Linked DNA regions of Homo sapiens: region 2 is linked to region 1. The links come from fine-mapping of genetic effects on gene expression. Tissue or cell type: whole blood. Region 1 holds a variant in brackets; the other region holds the start of a gene. All regions are shown on one strand. Distances are between the middles of the regions.

The links. PIP is the estimated chance that this variant, and not a neighbour inherited with it, causes the effect.
Region 2: PRR22 starts here. The variant in region 1 is fine-mapped to the expression of PRR22 in whole blood (TOPMed, PIP 0.97).

The regions. Positions count from the first base shown.
Region 1 is chr19:5,634,081-5,641,915 of GRCh38, forward strand. It overlaps SAFB (scaffold attachment factor B), which reads left to right. Exons shown (of 21, transcript NM_001201338.2): 3 at 7,514-7,578; 4 at 7,660-7,835. Among named protein-coding and RNA genes, the nearest start is that of SAFB, 15 kb to the left of the region's middle. The variant T/C (reference allele first, on the strand shown) is at 3,505.
Region 2 is chr19:5,779,996-5,786,815 of GRCh38, forward strand. It overlaps PRR22 (proline rich 22), which reads right to left and starts at 4,751. Exons shown (of 3, transcript NM_001134316.2): 1 at 4,536-4,751; 2 at 4,382-4,444; 3 at 2,965-4,058. The coding sequence starts at 4,665. The coding sequence ends at 2,983. DUS3L (dihydrouridine synthase 3 like) reads right to left here. Exons shown (of 13, transcript NM_020175.3): 9 at 6,754-6,820; 10 at 6,472-6,547; 11 at 5,608-5,796; 12 at 5,388-5,516; 13 at 5,145-5,280. The coding sequence ends at 5,208. RefSeq lists a silencer at 737-915.

The DNA.
Region 1 (7,835 bases):
TGACATTGAAATGTACATAACATTCTTAAATAGTAAATAGAATTAACAGGAAATTTTCAAGTCCTGCGAAATCACTAATTAGAGAAAAATTTCCTAGATGTGATGACTTTTTAGCAGAGAAAATTTTCCTAGATATGATGACTTTTTATCAGAAAATTGTCACTTTTCTCCACAGTAACCTAAAAGGAAATTTTATAATGTGTTCCATAATAGTCTAAAAAGAAAATGCACAAGAATAACTAAAATTCTGGGCGGGGGGGAATACAGGGATTTCCTCTAATTTTGATGATAGGATATTGCAAACAACAGAAAGTTTGAGGGTTTGTTCATTTGATGGTGGGGGAAAGCTCTAATCTTATCTCTTCTTGTGTAAAATAGAAATTCCAGCTAGTTTAATACTTTTTATAATATAGTAATAAGAAAGACCTGAAGTAAGAATAAAACTGAGAAACAACAAAGAAAGAGAAATTTGGCTACATAAAAGTTTTAACTCTCTGTTAAGAAAGGTATGCAACAGTCTGGGAGAAAATATTATAGCACAGAATAAGGAAGAAACTCATATCCAGAAAGCATTGAATGTTCTGACAAATCAGTAAGGAAAACAGGCAACCCAGTCAACAAGGAGCAGAGACTATGAACAGGCAATTTACAAATAAATGAAAAAGCAGATGTGGCCTAGAGACCAAAAGATTCCCTTGCTGGTAGTTGCAGAATAGCAAATTTTGAAATGACATAAGATTTTTGCCTATCAAACTGGTAAAAATTTACACAGTTCCGCAAGGTGCGGTGACTCAAACCTGTAATCCTAGCACTTTGGGAGGCTGAGGTGGGCGGGTCACTCTAGGTAAAGAGTTTGAGACCAGCCTGGCCAACATGGAGAAACCTTGTCTCTACAAAAAAATACAAAATTAACCGGGTGTGGTGGCACGTGCCGGTAATCCCAGCTACTCGGGAGGCTGAGGCAGGAGAATCACTTGAACCCAGGAGGCGGAGGTTCCGGTGAGCCGAGATCACGCCATTGCACTCCAGCCTGGGCAACAAGAGCGAAACTCCATCTCAAAAAAAAATTTTTTTTACACAGTTCCTGTTCTCCTACATTGGCAAGGGTATTGGGGAAGGTGTAGGTGTTGGAGACAATAAATTGCTACAGCCTTTTTGAGAAGGCAGCTAACGTGGGGAACTGCCGTAGCATGGAGTCAAAGATGGAGGTGGATCAATACGCAGTACATAAAAATGTCCAAGGCCTGTTAGTAGTTTCTGTAACTTGTGTCATTGCTCACTAACAATAAGATTTCATCTCATCACAAGCTTATTTCCATATGTATCATATAATGTATGTAGATGCAAGATGATGTCCTGAGGCACCACCAAGCTGGGAACGTTGGTAACCTCTTAAGAGGACAGTAGGGAAAAGGGAAGGTATTATAGCTTTATACTTCCTATACTTAGGAGGATGAATCTTCTGTTACTGCAGTAAAGTTTAATACGTATATTTGCATAATTAGGGAAGTGTGTTTGTGTAATCAAATCAGAAAGTAATGAACCACCCACATGCAGCCCTGGGTACTATGGGAGCATCCCAGCAGAAGTCCAGGGCAGCAGAGTCAGCAGTGAGATTGGACAGTCTCTGAGGCAGAAGCTTAACAGAAGGCAAGAGATGGAATCCCAGGCAGGGAGCTACGAGCAGGCGATAGAGGCGATGACGGTCATGCCCATAGCTGAGACCACAAACTAGGGTGAAGAGCTGAGGTAGAAGGATTCAAGGGGCACATTGGCCTTGATACTAAAGACAAATCAATGGCTCTTCAGTTTTTGCCAGAGAGTTATACTTTTCCCATTTGCATTCATTTTTGGTTTTTTTAGACGTTTTTCTTCTCTGGAGAATACTGTCTTTCCTCAAGTCGTGATGATTAATAAACATTCCAGTCAGGGATGTGCTTTATACGTTGAAGATTAAACATTTTGAAGATTGCATGTTCTCTCGACATTTCCAGTCACATTTTACCTCGGGGGAGCTTTCCCCTGAGAAGGATTTGGCTGCAGTGTACCTGTACATACTGCTTGGGAGAAAAGTGGTCATAGAAGTGGAAAACCCTGATTCTGTTTGATGAAAATCTAGTACCCCTCCTGAGGAAGAGAGAACACCGTATGGAGGGCAGCAAGTTTCTGATAAGTTAGTAGATTTTTCCTATTATCTGGAATAGGATTGGACAGAAACCAACGTACGTATCATAGAATTGTAGCAACTTTATCAAATGTAATCATTCTGTGGCAATGCTCTGGTATCTCTTCCCAGCATGTTTACAGAGACCACTGGGTTGAGTTCCAGCTGTTTTTTAGACCTCGAGGCATGTTTTGCCAAAGAAATAATGGTATAAAATGGGGATGGATTTCCCAGCCAACTGACCAAAATATCATGTATTGAATTCTGTTATCAGTTTGATAGTCCCCTATCTTTGTAAATAAGGTAATTCTAAAAATATGAATGAAATTAGAATATTTAAACGTCAATTACAGTACAAATAATTAGGTTTGGAATTTTTGTCTTTGGCTTTTCTTTTTTTCTCCCCCCAGGATGTTACATATTTATCCAGTTACAAGAATAGTTTCCAGTATAGACAAATTAATTGTCTTTTCTTTTTTCTTTGAGACAGGGTCTGACTCTGTCACCCAGGCTGAGTGCAGTGGCACAATCTCAGCTCACCGCAACCTCCACCTCCTGGGTTCAAGTGATTTTCCTGTCTCAGCCTCCCGAGTAGCTGGGATTACAGGTGCCTGACACCACACCTGGCTAATTTTTATATTTTTAGTAGAGACAGGGTCTCACCGTGTTGACCAGGCTGGTCTCAAACTCCTGACCTCAAGTGATCCACCCACCTCGGCCTCCCAAAGTGCTGGGATTATAGGTGTGAGCCACAGTGTCAGACCTTGTTTCCTTAATACTGCTTGAAACAACACTTAGCCTTAAAACAATTGATTTTCGGCCGGGCGTGGTGGCTCACGCCTGTAATCCTAGCACTTCGGGAGGCCGAGGCGGGTGGATCACGAGGTCAGGAGATCGAGACCATCCTGGCTAACACGGTGAAACCCCGTCTCTACTAAAAATACAAAAAATAAGCCGGGCGTGATGGCGGGTGCCTGTAGTCCCAGCTACTCGGGAGGCTGAGGCAGGAGAATGGCGTGAACCCGGGAGGTGGAGCTTGCAGTGAGCCAAGATCGTGCCACTGCTCTCCAGCCTGGGCTACAGAGCCAGACTCCATCTCAAAAAAAAAAAAAAAAAATTGATTTTCAGGCTGGATGTGGTGACTCGTGCCTGTAATCCCAGCACTTTGAGAGGCCCAAGCAGGAGACTCACTTGAGAGCCTAGGAGTTCAAGACCAGCCTGGGCAACATAGTGAGACCCCACTGCTACATAAAATACAAAAATTAGCCAAGCATGGTGGCACGTGCCTGTAGTTCCAGCTACTCGGGAGACTGAGGTGGGAGGATCCCTTGAGGATCCCT[T/C]GATGCTGGGAGGCAGAGGCTGCAGTGAGCCAAGACATGCCACTGCACTCCAGCCTTGGTGACGGGGTCAGACCCTGTCTCCAAAAAAAAATAGACTATTCTTCACACTGGGAAAGAGGCCTGGCAGGAAGTAGTTTTCCCAAAGTTGTGTGTTTGATCAGCTTTTCTCCCATGTTCTTCAAAAAGCTGAGCACCGCCTTCTATAAGGAATGCTAGGAAGCTGTGCTGGCAGTAGCTCTAAAACATGAAATGATGCTACATTATGCCTTGCCTTTGAGATGTGGTCTTCCAGAGTCTATTTCATGGATTTCATGCATGTGATTTTATTCTTCACATGGAAGACAGTCAAAGAGTTTAATTTGAGCATGCCTATTCCTGACACCAGAAATTTCATTTTTGCCATGCCTAATGACTTCCATTTTTGCTTCAGTTCTGTTATTTCTGGTATCATCGTTTACATTTTTCTATTCTCTACTCATTTTATCATTTGTATGAAAAAGCAAATGACTATATAAATACTGCTGTTTGGATGAAGGTGCCAGCATGCCTGCCCTTGTGAACTGTTGCAAATGTTATAAATCATCAATTAGTAAGAAAAATTGGGAGGTTGCACAAGGGGAGTTGGGGAAATGACTTCCCTGTTCTTAGCATTGTTGGCTGACAGGAGAAGTATGAACCTAAGAAGGTATGCAGCCTCTTGATGTTTTTCACATTTTTTAAAATTACTAAACTCTTTTTATTTTATTTATTTTGAGATGGAGTCTGTCTCTGTCACCCACACCAGAGTGCAGTGGCTCAATCTCATCTCACTGCAACCTCTGCCTCCTGGGTTCAAGCGATTCTCCTGCGTCAACCCCCCCACCGAGTAGCTGGGATTACAGGCACCTGCCACCATGTCCTTCTAATTTTTGTATTTTTAGTAGAGCTGGGGTTTCACCATGTTGGCCAGGCTGGTCTCAAACTCCTGACCTCAGGTGACCCACCCACCTCGACCTCCCAAAGTGCTGAGATTACAGGTGTGAGCCACCACGCCCAGCCTAAAATTACTAAACTCTTGAAGAAAAACCTGGAGTTAAGCCATACCTTCCAATCGTTTTTTAGTTTCTTTTTTTTTATACTTAATCTTAGTCTTTTTTTTTTTTTTTTTTTTTTAAAGACAGTCTGTCTTGCTCTGTCACCCAGGCTGGAGTGCAGTAGTGTGTTCTCGCCTCATTGCAATTTCCACTTCCCGGGTTCAAGCGATTCTCCTGCCTCATCCTCCCCAAGCTGGGATTACAGGCGCCTGCCACCACGCCTGGCTAATTTTTTTGTATTTTTAGTAGAGACGCGGTTTTGCCATGTTGGCCAGGCTGTTCTCAAACTCTTCTCTTGACCTCAGATGATCCACCCGCCTTGGCCTCCCAAAGTGGTGGGATTATAGGCATGAGCCACCACGCCTGGCAAGTATTTTCTATTTAGAAAAACATGGTAATGCCACATATCTAAAACTGGAACAAAAATAACAGATCAGTGGAAGAGAATGGAAACAAGTAATCCCAGACATAAATACAAATATAATATTGCGGAAGCCAACATTTCAAATTGGTCGGGGGCAAGTACTATTTAGTCAGTGGTGCTGGGAAATCAGTTTCCAAATGGGACAACTATTGGGAAAATAGTCTCACTCAACATGAAACTGAGAGAATAAATGTTTAAAACTTCAAAAGAACTAAATACAGGTGTATATTATTTAGCCTTCAGTATGGAGGAGGACATCCAAGCATGAAGGTATAAACCACTTACATTTTAAAAACAATTAATAGCTTGGCCACATAAGAGTGAAATGGGCCAGGGCGCGGTGGCTCATGTCTGTAATCCCAGCACTTTGGGAGGCTGAGGCAGGTGGATCACCTGAGGTCAGGAGTTTGAGACCAGCCTGGCCAACATGGTGAAACCCCATCTCTACTAAAAATACAAAAATTAACTGGGTGTAGTGGCAGGCGCCTGTAATCCCAGCTACTCAGGCGGCTGAGGCAGGAGAATCACTTGAACCCAGGAGGCAGAGGTTGCAGTGAGCTGAGATCAGGCCACTGCACTCCAGCCTGGGTGACAGAGCAAGACTCCGTCCCAAAAAAAAAAAAAAAGAACAGTGAAGTGTACTCAAAACCTGTAAACAAAATTTAAAAACTGGTAAAGAACTGGGAAAATATGTTTTGTACATATGATATATAAACTTCAAATGATGGGGGATGGAGCCGAAGTGTTTTGTTTGTTTGTTTTGTTTTGTTTTTGAGATGGAGTTTTGCTTTTGTTGCCCAGGCTGGAGTGCAACGGCAGGATCTCGGCTCACCGCAACCTCCACCCCCTGGGTTCAAGCGATTCTCCTGCCTCAGCCTCCCAAGTAGCTGGGATTACAGTCATGCCCCACCACACCTGGCTAATTTTGTTTTTTGTTTTTTTGGTTTTTTTTAGTAGAGACAGGGTTTCTCCATGTCAGTCAGGCTAGTCCCGAAATCCTGACCTCAGGTGATCCGCCTGCCTCGGCCTCCCAAGTGCTGGGATTACAGGCGTGAGCCACCGCGCCTGGCTGGAGCCGAAGTTTTTAAATAGTGGGGTGTAAATCAGAAATTTTTAGAAAAGTACAGGTGATCAACAACAAAAAGCAAATGATTCAAAGCAATTTGAGTAGTCAGGAGATAAATTCGTGTTAAAACAGTATTCCTTTTCTTACCTAGCATATTGGCAAAGATAAAGAAAAATAGCAAATTTTTAACAGAGATTCAAGAAAGATTGGCTTTTTTTTTTTTTTTTTTTTTTTCTGGAGATGGAGTCTCGCTCTGTTGCCAGACTGGAGTGCAGTGGTGTGATCTCGGCTAACTGCAACCTCTGCCTCCCGGATTCAAGCGATTCTCCTGCCTCAGCCTCCCGAGTGGCTGGGACTACAAGTGCACGAGATTGGCACTTTTTAATTCGCTGTTGATGGAAATGTATAAGTTAAAAAAAAACCTTCCTCTGCAATTTTTGTTTTGTTTTGTTTTGTTTTTGAGACAGAGTCTTGCTCTGTCATCCAGGCTGGAGTGCAGCGGCACGATCTCAGCTCACTGCAACCTAAACCTCCAGAGTTCAAGCGATTTTCCTGCCTCCGCCTCCTGAGTAGCTGAGATTACTGGCAACCGCCACCACAACCAGCTAGTTTTTTGTATTTTTAGTTGAGACAGGGTTTCGTCAGGTTGGCCAGGCTGGTGTCAAACTCCTGACCTCAAGTGATCCACCTGTCTCGGCCTCCTAATGTGCTGGACTTAACAGGCATGAGCCACCGTGCCCAGCCCCTCTGGAGTATCTTGATAGTATGTGGGTTTTTTGTTTTTCTTTTTTTTTTTTTTTTAACCGAGTTTCGCTCTTGTTGCCCAGGCTGGAGTGCAGTGGCGCAGTCTCGGCTCAGTGCAACCTCCGCCTCCTGGGTTCAAGTGATTGTCCTGTATTTTTAGTAGAGACGGGGTTTCACCATGTTTTCCAGGCTGGTCTCGAACTCCTGACCTCAGGTGATCCGCCCGCCTAGGCCTCCCAAAGTGCTGGGATTACAGGCGTAAGCCATCGCATCCGGCCCTTCTTTTTTCTTTTTAAGCATTAAAAATGTGCATACTCGGGCATGCGCAGTTTCTGTGGGAAAACATGTTCCTTAACTAAAAGGCAGCACATTTGCAACAAATAATTTTTCCCTCAAACAAGGACACTTGGGATAGGAAGAAGGGCAGAGCTGAGGACAGGTCTGATCCTGTTCAACTTTACTAAGAACCTGTTTTCTGCACTTCTACTTCCACAGCTCAGACAAGAACAGAACCTCTTCTGCTTGGGGGTGGGGCAGGGCTGTCTTGTGCGGAATGGCCTCATTCCTGGATTAGGAAGTGTTCCTAAGTAGTGAGGTGTCTCAGATGTTTATAAAGTGACCACTTGTGTAGTGCTCAGGGCATTGTTGCTTCTGTAAAGTGCGTATCATTTGATCTCATGCTGTAAATGATTCTGTCTTCAGGGCGCAAACCAGAAGAAGAGGGTGTGGAAGATAACGGGCTGGAGGAAAACTCTGGGGATGGACAGGTATGTGCAGCCTTGCGAGTGAGTAGCGTGGTGGATGGACCAGTGGCGGTCACATGATGGTTCGGTCTGGTTGTGTCACAGGAGGATGTTGAGACCAGTCTGGAGAACTTGCAGGACATCGACATCATGGATATCAGTGTGTTGGATGAAGCAGAAATTGATAATGGAAGCGTTGCAGATTGTGTCGAAGACGATGATGCTGATAACCTCCAGGAGTCCCTGTCGGATAGTAGAGAGCTAGTCGAGGGGGAAATGAA
Region 2 (6,820 bases), 150 kb after region 1:
TCAGCCATCTCCTTTTAAGTGAAAATTTGGTCAGTCTCATGACTTCCGATTACTCTTTGGTTAAAAAAATATATATATAAAATATACATACATAAAAAATACATATATAAAATATATATATTAAAAATACATATAAAAATATGTATAAATACATATATATATTAAAAATACATATATATAAATACATATATAAATATATATTAAAATACATATATAAAAATATATATATTAAAAAATACATATATATATTCTGTGATCATTTTAAATTGCCCCACATAGCTACAACAGGCTGGGGCAGGGGGATCACTTGAGGCCAGGAGTTCAAGATCAGCCTGGACAACATAGCAAGACCCCCCATCTCTACAAAAAAATTTTTTTAGACATTAGCTGAGTGTGGTGGTGCATGCCTGTAGTTCCAGCTACTTGGGAGGCTGAGGTGGGAGGATCGCTTGAGCCCAGGAGGTCGAGGCTGCAGTAAGCCATGATCACGGCGCTATACTCCAGCCTGGGCAACGTAGCGAGACCCTGTCTCAGAAAGAAAAAAAAAAGCTACTGCTTGGGTCCTTGCAGACATCCACTGTGTGACCCTCACTCCACATTAATCTTCAAGAAAAGTGATCCAGGTCCTTGCCCCACTTCCTCATCAGCCAGGACCTCCCCGACACTTGGGATACCTGGTTTTAGTTTCAGAGATACCCCTAATGAGGCTTCGGGGAGAAGGAGTTGAAAAGCAGCTGAGAAAAGTGGGCTTGGGGCTGGGCGCGGTGGCTCACGCCTGTCATCCCAGCACTTTGGTAGGCTGAGGCGGGCGGATCCCCTGAGGTTAGGAGATCGAGACCAGCCTGACCAACATGGTGAAATCCCGTCTCTACTAAAAATACAATTAACCAGGTGTGGTGGTGCACACCTGTAATCCCAGCTACTCGGGAGGCTGAGGCAGGCAGGAGAGTCACTTGAACTCGGGAGGCGGAGGTTGCAGTGAGCCGAGATCACGCCATTGCACTCCAGCTTGGGCAACAAGAGCGAAACTCTGCCTCAAAAAAACAAAAGTGCACTTGGAGTCTCTCCCAGCCTGTGTCCCCACGGGTCAAACAGTGATGAATGGGGATCACTGCAGATGCCAGGAGGGCACATGGCACAGTCCCTGGGACAGGGGGACCCTGTCTTGAGGGCCACAGCTGCATGGCCCCGAGACACTACCCGGAGTTGTTTTTGTTTTTTGAAATGGAGTCTTGCTCTATTGCCCAGGGTGGAGTGCAGTGATGTGATCTCGGCTCACTACAACCTCTGCCTCCCGGGCTCAAGCAATTCTTGTGCCTTAGTCTCCTGAGTAGCTGGGATTACAGGCGCCTGCCACCATACCCAGATAATTTTTGCATTTTCTTTTTTTTTTTGAGACGGAGTCTCACTCTGTCGCCCAGGCTGGAGTGCAGTGGTGCAATCTTGGCTCACTGCAAGCTCCGCCTCCTGGGTTCACGCCATTCTCCTGCCTCAGCCTCCCGAGTAGCTGGGACTACAGGCACCCGCCACCACACCCAGCTAATTTTTTTGTATTTTTAGTAGAGCTGGGGTTTCATCGTGTTTGCCAGGATGGTCTCAATCTCCTGATCTCGTGATCTGCCTGCCTTGGCCTCCCGAAGTACTGGGATTACAGGCGTGAGAAGCTGCGCCCGGCCAATTTTTGTATTTTCAGTAGAGACAGGGTTTCACCATTTTGGCCAAGCTGGTCTCGAACTCCTGACCTCAAGTGATCTGCCCGCCTCGGCCTCCCAAAGTGCTGAGATTACAGGTGTTTGCCACTGCACCTGGCCTCCTCCTGAGTTTTTTGAATAAGGGTTTCCGGGAGAGTAGCTCCAGAGAGCAGCAGGCACAGTGCCCTACACAGAGCCGGGACCATGGTCTCTGCTCGGCCTCCAAACACCCATCAGCCTCCTGGACTCTAGGTGAGCCTCCCAGGGCCTCCCCAAGCAGAGGCCTTGAAACCCAAACTCCGGAGACCCAGGAGATCCAGCCCGCAGCCTGGGGAAGGGGTAGGCTGAAGGTTCCCATCCCAGAGGGGTGTCCTCATCCCAGGAGGCGCTGGATGGCACTCGACCTCCTGTTTCCTTATGTGTCCCTGGGGGAATGGGGTCAGCCTCTCCAGGGCCACCATGAGCGTTTCAGGGGAGGAGGGTACAGGTGGCCACTGCCTGGACCCCCAGGAGGGCTCTCGAGACCCTGATGTGGGTAAGCAGTGACGGGAACCAGCACCCGGAGGTCGTTCTTCCGAGGCTGGGCCCATCCCATTTTGGAACGAGTAGCCAGGCTGTCCCTGCCACCCCGGACCCCGAAGTGTGGCCGGGTGGGGCCCCTGACCCTCTCCTGGGCTCCAGGTGCTGTCTCCTGTCTCCATCTTGGGTGCACATGCCAGGCCCCCTGGGTGCCGTGTGCTCCCCACCCCTTCACGCGTGGGCACTGTCTCATCCCTGCCCCAGCCCCCACCCTCAGACCATCAGGTGAAGCCCCTGCACCCACCTGTCTGTCTGAACAAGAGCGTGGCCCTTCCCGCCCTGCCTGCAGTGGCTGTGGCTTCCTGGGGACAGGAGGCAGCTGGGTGGGGATCTGGAGGATGCTCCTCAAGCCCTGCCCTGATGGCTGTGTGTCTCCAAGGAAGTTCCTGCTGCTCTGGGCAGCCTTGCTTTCCCCCACCAAACAAAGGGGTGAAAACCCTTAGAACGCGTTGAGTCTGGGGGTCAGCTCCCTCGTGCCCCAGGAGGCCCCTGCCTCTGCCAGAGGAGTCTGATGTTCCAGGGCTGGGACTCAAGGAGTTTAGGGTGTCCTGTGATTCCGGGGCTCCCCTGCTAAGAGGCCTCACTGTGAGGCCGGGGGCGCTGCCTTGCCAGTCCGCGGGATGATGGGGTGAGGGGCCAGGCGTGCATCTCCAGCCCCCTCCCCATCCCCAAGGCCCCCACGTGGACATGGAGCTGAAAGGTCAAATGTGCTTTAATGCGGGGTGGCTCCCAGGTCCTCCCTGGGCCCCGGGGGAGTGGCGCTGGCTGGGCCTGCCGGCTGCCTGGCCTTCCTTCCCGGCTTTCCCTTCTTGGCCGTCGAGGCCTTTCTCTTGCCAGACAGAATGGGGGCCGGGGTGTTGGTGGCAGGGGGCCCCGGGTGGGGCGGCTGCTCCTCGTCGAGCGCCTTGAAGTTGAAGAAGTAGTCAACGTTGGACACGGTGTCCAGGATCTCAGGCACGCTGTAGTCAAAGGACAGCAGCTCCTCGGGCAGGCACAGCGAGCGGATGTCATCGGCTGAGTTCCCACCACTGCTGTCAGGCAGGGCCGGCCCAGGGACCTCGCACAGGGTACCCTCAGGCTCAGAGGCGCCTGGCAGGCAGTCGAAGAGCTTCATGGCGTCCTCCAGCAGAACCTTGTCAGGCAGTGCCAAAGCTCTGGCCGTCTTGGGGGCCTTGGCCTTGCCTGCTCCCAGCAGGGCCCCCTCCTTGACCTCGGCCACCTTGAGCTCGCTGAGGCCCGGTGGGTACAGGGGCACCCCAGGTCGGGCCCCACTGCCCTGCAGCTCCTTGACGGGGAAGGCCAGGGGTTCGGGCCCAGGGAAGTGGCCGAGGTGACCCTGGAGGTGGCTGTAGGCGTCTGGGGGCAGTGTGGGCTCTGCAGGCAGCGTGATGAGTACAGGGGGCGGCTTGTTCTCCTTGGGGGGTGGGGGTGGCAGCGGGGCCGGGCCTTCCTCTAGGGGCGGTAGGGGCAGCTCCACGAAGGCGGCGGGCCCTGCGTCCCCCACAAAACCCAGAGCCTCTGGCCCGGGGCCCTCAGGCGGGAAGTAGGGCAAGAGAAACTGGGGCCCCCCGGGTGCCTGCTGGTAGTGGGGGTATGGAGGCAGCCCCGGGGCCTTGAGGTAGGGCTGAGGCTCCAGGAGGTAGCTGCCTGGGGCGGAGGGGACCCCCGCTGGCCCCCCGCTGCTTGCTGCCAGCTTATACAGGGCTGACTGGCCCAGGTCGGGGGTGGTCCACTCGATCCGATAGATGCGGGGGTCGAAGAAGCACCCGCATGGGGCCATCTGGAAACCTGTGGGCGGCAGGCGGGTGCCCTGAGAGCAGCTGCTGCCTGAGGGGCCCAGCCCAAGCCTGGGGGCCTGTTTGGGAGATGCCACAAGAACCTTGCCATTGGGGGGCCCCTTTGGGGGACGACATAGATATTGCTTTGGGGCCCTGGCTGGGTGATGGATGACACAGAGCTTGTCTTTGGGGCTCATCTGGGGGACCTGTGTGAAGCATGGGGAGCAGAGGCCATGCCTTCAGGCTCCCACTTAGGGACGGGGCAGGGGCAAGATGGGCCTGCACACTCAAACCCACTCCCAGCCTCGTCAAGGGCTCAGGGGAGGCCGGTACCTGCTGGTGGGGCTGGAAACACCTCTTTCTCTGGGTCTGGGGGATGATACAGGTTCAAGGAGCCTGTGGACAAAGGTGCCCAGGTGGGTAGGGCCCTTAGGCGGGTGGGCCCCTGAACCCTCTCCAGCAGGTGCTCCCACCCACCCGATCGTACCCATAGCGGGAGGAGGCTCGGCACAGGTGGGAGCAGGCTGGTTGCCCAGCACCTCAGCCCCCTCCAGACTCTGCGGGCTGAAACCTTCCTGGGGAGCTGCAGGGGCACAGAACGGTTTGGGGTGCTGCATGGGGCAGCGGGGGGCCCGGTCCAGACAGGCCAGGAGGGCGGCAGTGGGAGTGCAAGTGGCCCAACCGGAGAACAGGCTGAGAACCTGGTGGGGTTCTGTTTGCCTGGTTACTCGGGGCAGCGGGTTCCAGCCTGCAGCGCGCCCACTGGTTGGGGTTCTGGGTGTTGGGGGCAAGCAGGGGCAGACGTTGGCAGACATGGTCATCACCATGGGAGGGAGGATTCTGGGCCAGGCCTTTGCCTCTTCCAGCAACACCCCCCTAACAGCTTTGAGGCCGCCTCCTCCAGGCAGGCTGCCCTGATCCACACCCACACAGGCTGAGGCCCCCCGGGTCCTCAACCCGCTACCTTCTTGGGGGTCAAGGCCTCTCTGGGCACCAGCAGCACCCAGCTTGGGGCAGGGCCCATGGAGGCAGCTAAGAGGTTTGGGGAAGGTGGGGGCCGAGGAGGGGCTGCTTCAGGGTCACAGAAAGGCCTGGATTTTAAAAGAATAAAATTTATTGTACTCTCCTCGCCCCAGGGTGCCCCTGGGAAAGCCTGAGGCTACTTGTACGCGTTGGCCTTGTGCTTCGGCAAGAAGGCGAAGCTGGGGGGCACTGGCCCAAGGAGCATCTCGCTGTGGGAGAGCAGGTGGAAAGCGAGGTCAGGCCCAGGACCTGCAAAGTACCCTCCGTGACCCCGGGCCCCCGACTGCAGCTCCCCAACTCCAGCCCACCCAGGCACCTGATGCGGATCCAGTCGGCTGCCTTCTGGCTGGCCATCAGCGTCTCCAGGTAGTCGCGGCCCAGGTAGTAGGGCGGCCGCTCGTTGATCCTCTGTGGGAGCCGCTCCAGCAGCCCCACGGGCACGTACCTGCGGCGGGTGGGCGGGCAGGACAGGCTTGAGTCAGCTCTAACCAGCCGCGGCCCACGCGCCGCCCACCCCAGCCAGCCCCGGTGCCCACCGGCACAGGAAGGACAGCCACTCGAGCAGAAAGCGCCGGGTCTTCTCCACGCCCTGCGTGTCCGAGCCCCAGTGCTCCAGGCCGTAGTTGGTGAAGTCCCGCAGGATGTCCAGGCGCTCGGACGACGAGATGTCCCAGTGCCGCTGCTCCTTGATCTCCGTGAAGAGCCACGGCTTGAGCAGGGCGCCACTGTGGGACGGGTGACGATCAGTGGGCCCAGCCACCAGCCTGCCTGGGATCGTGTGGCCTCTGCTTCCATGGCCTGGCCTGAGCCGGAGCCCAGACCACAAAACCTACAAGCCTAGTAAGCCTCCCAGCTGCATGCACACAACCTTCAAAGCACAGGACTTTCTTTTGTTTTTTCTGAGACGGAGTCTGGCTCTGTCGCCCAGGCTGGGGTGCAGTGGTAAGATCTCGGCTCACTGTTCAACCTCCGTCTCCCAGGTTCAGGCAATTGTCCTGCCTCAGCCTCCCTAGTAGTTGGGATTACAGGCGTGTACCACTACACCTGGCTAATTTTTGTATTTTTAATAGAGATGTTTCACCATGTTGGTCAGGCTAGTCTTGAACCTCCGACCTCAAATGATCGGCGTGCCTTGGCCTCCCAAAGTGCTGGGATTACAGGCGTGAGCCACACACCTGGCCAAAGCCCAGGACTTTCAACCCACAATCATCAGATCCCACAGCAGCAGCAATTTCCAGTCCCCTCTGCCGCAACGCAGCTGCAACTCCTGACATCGCTCTCTGCTCCTCCCATCTTGGGACCAACAGCCCACCACAGAACAGGGGTGGGTGACGGCGTGTTGGGTTCAGGGCACTGCTGCTGTGCATGAAGCTGGATCTCTAACATCCCTGGGCACTTACCGGGCAATCATGATCCCGGTGACACCAGTCTGCATGGCGCGGTTGGCATCCTCAAATGACAAGATGTCCCCATTTCCTGAGGAGACAGAGGCTGGGGTCTCAGGGAGACATGGGCAGGTGGGACCCTGGAGTTCTGCTCACCAGCCCTTCAGGAGTTTTGGCTGACCCAGTGGCTCCCATCAGGGTGGTACGAGGGGGTCCCAAGTGGGAAGGCGAACAGCCCAGAGGTGTGAGTGACCAAGGGTGGTAGGGGAGAGGGAGGTGGCTTCCCGGAACACCCACCGAACAGGGGCATGGGGCTGGCGGCCTGCACGCACTCCTCGATGTACTGCCAGTCGGCTAGCTTGGT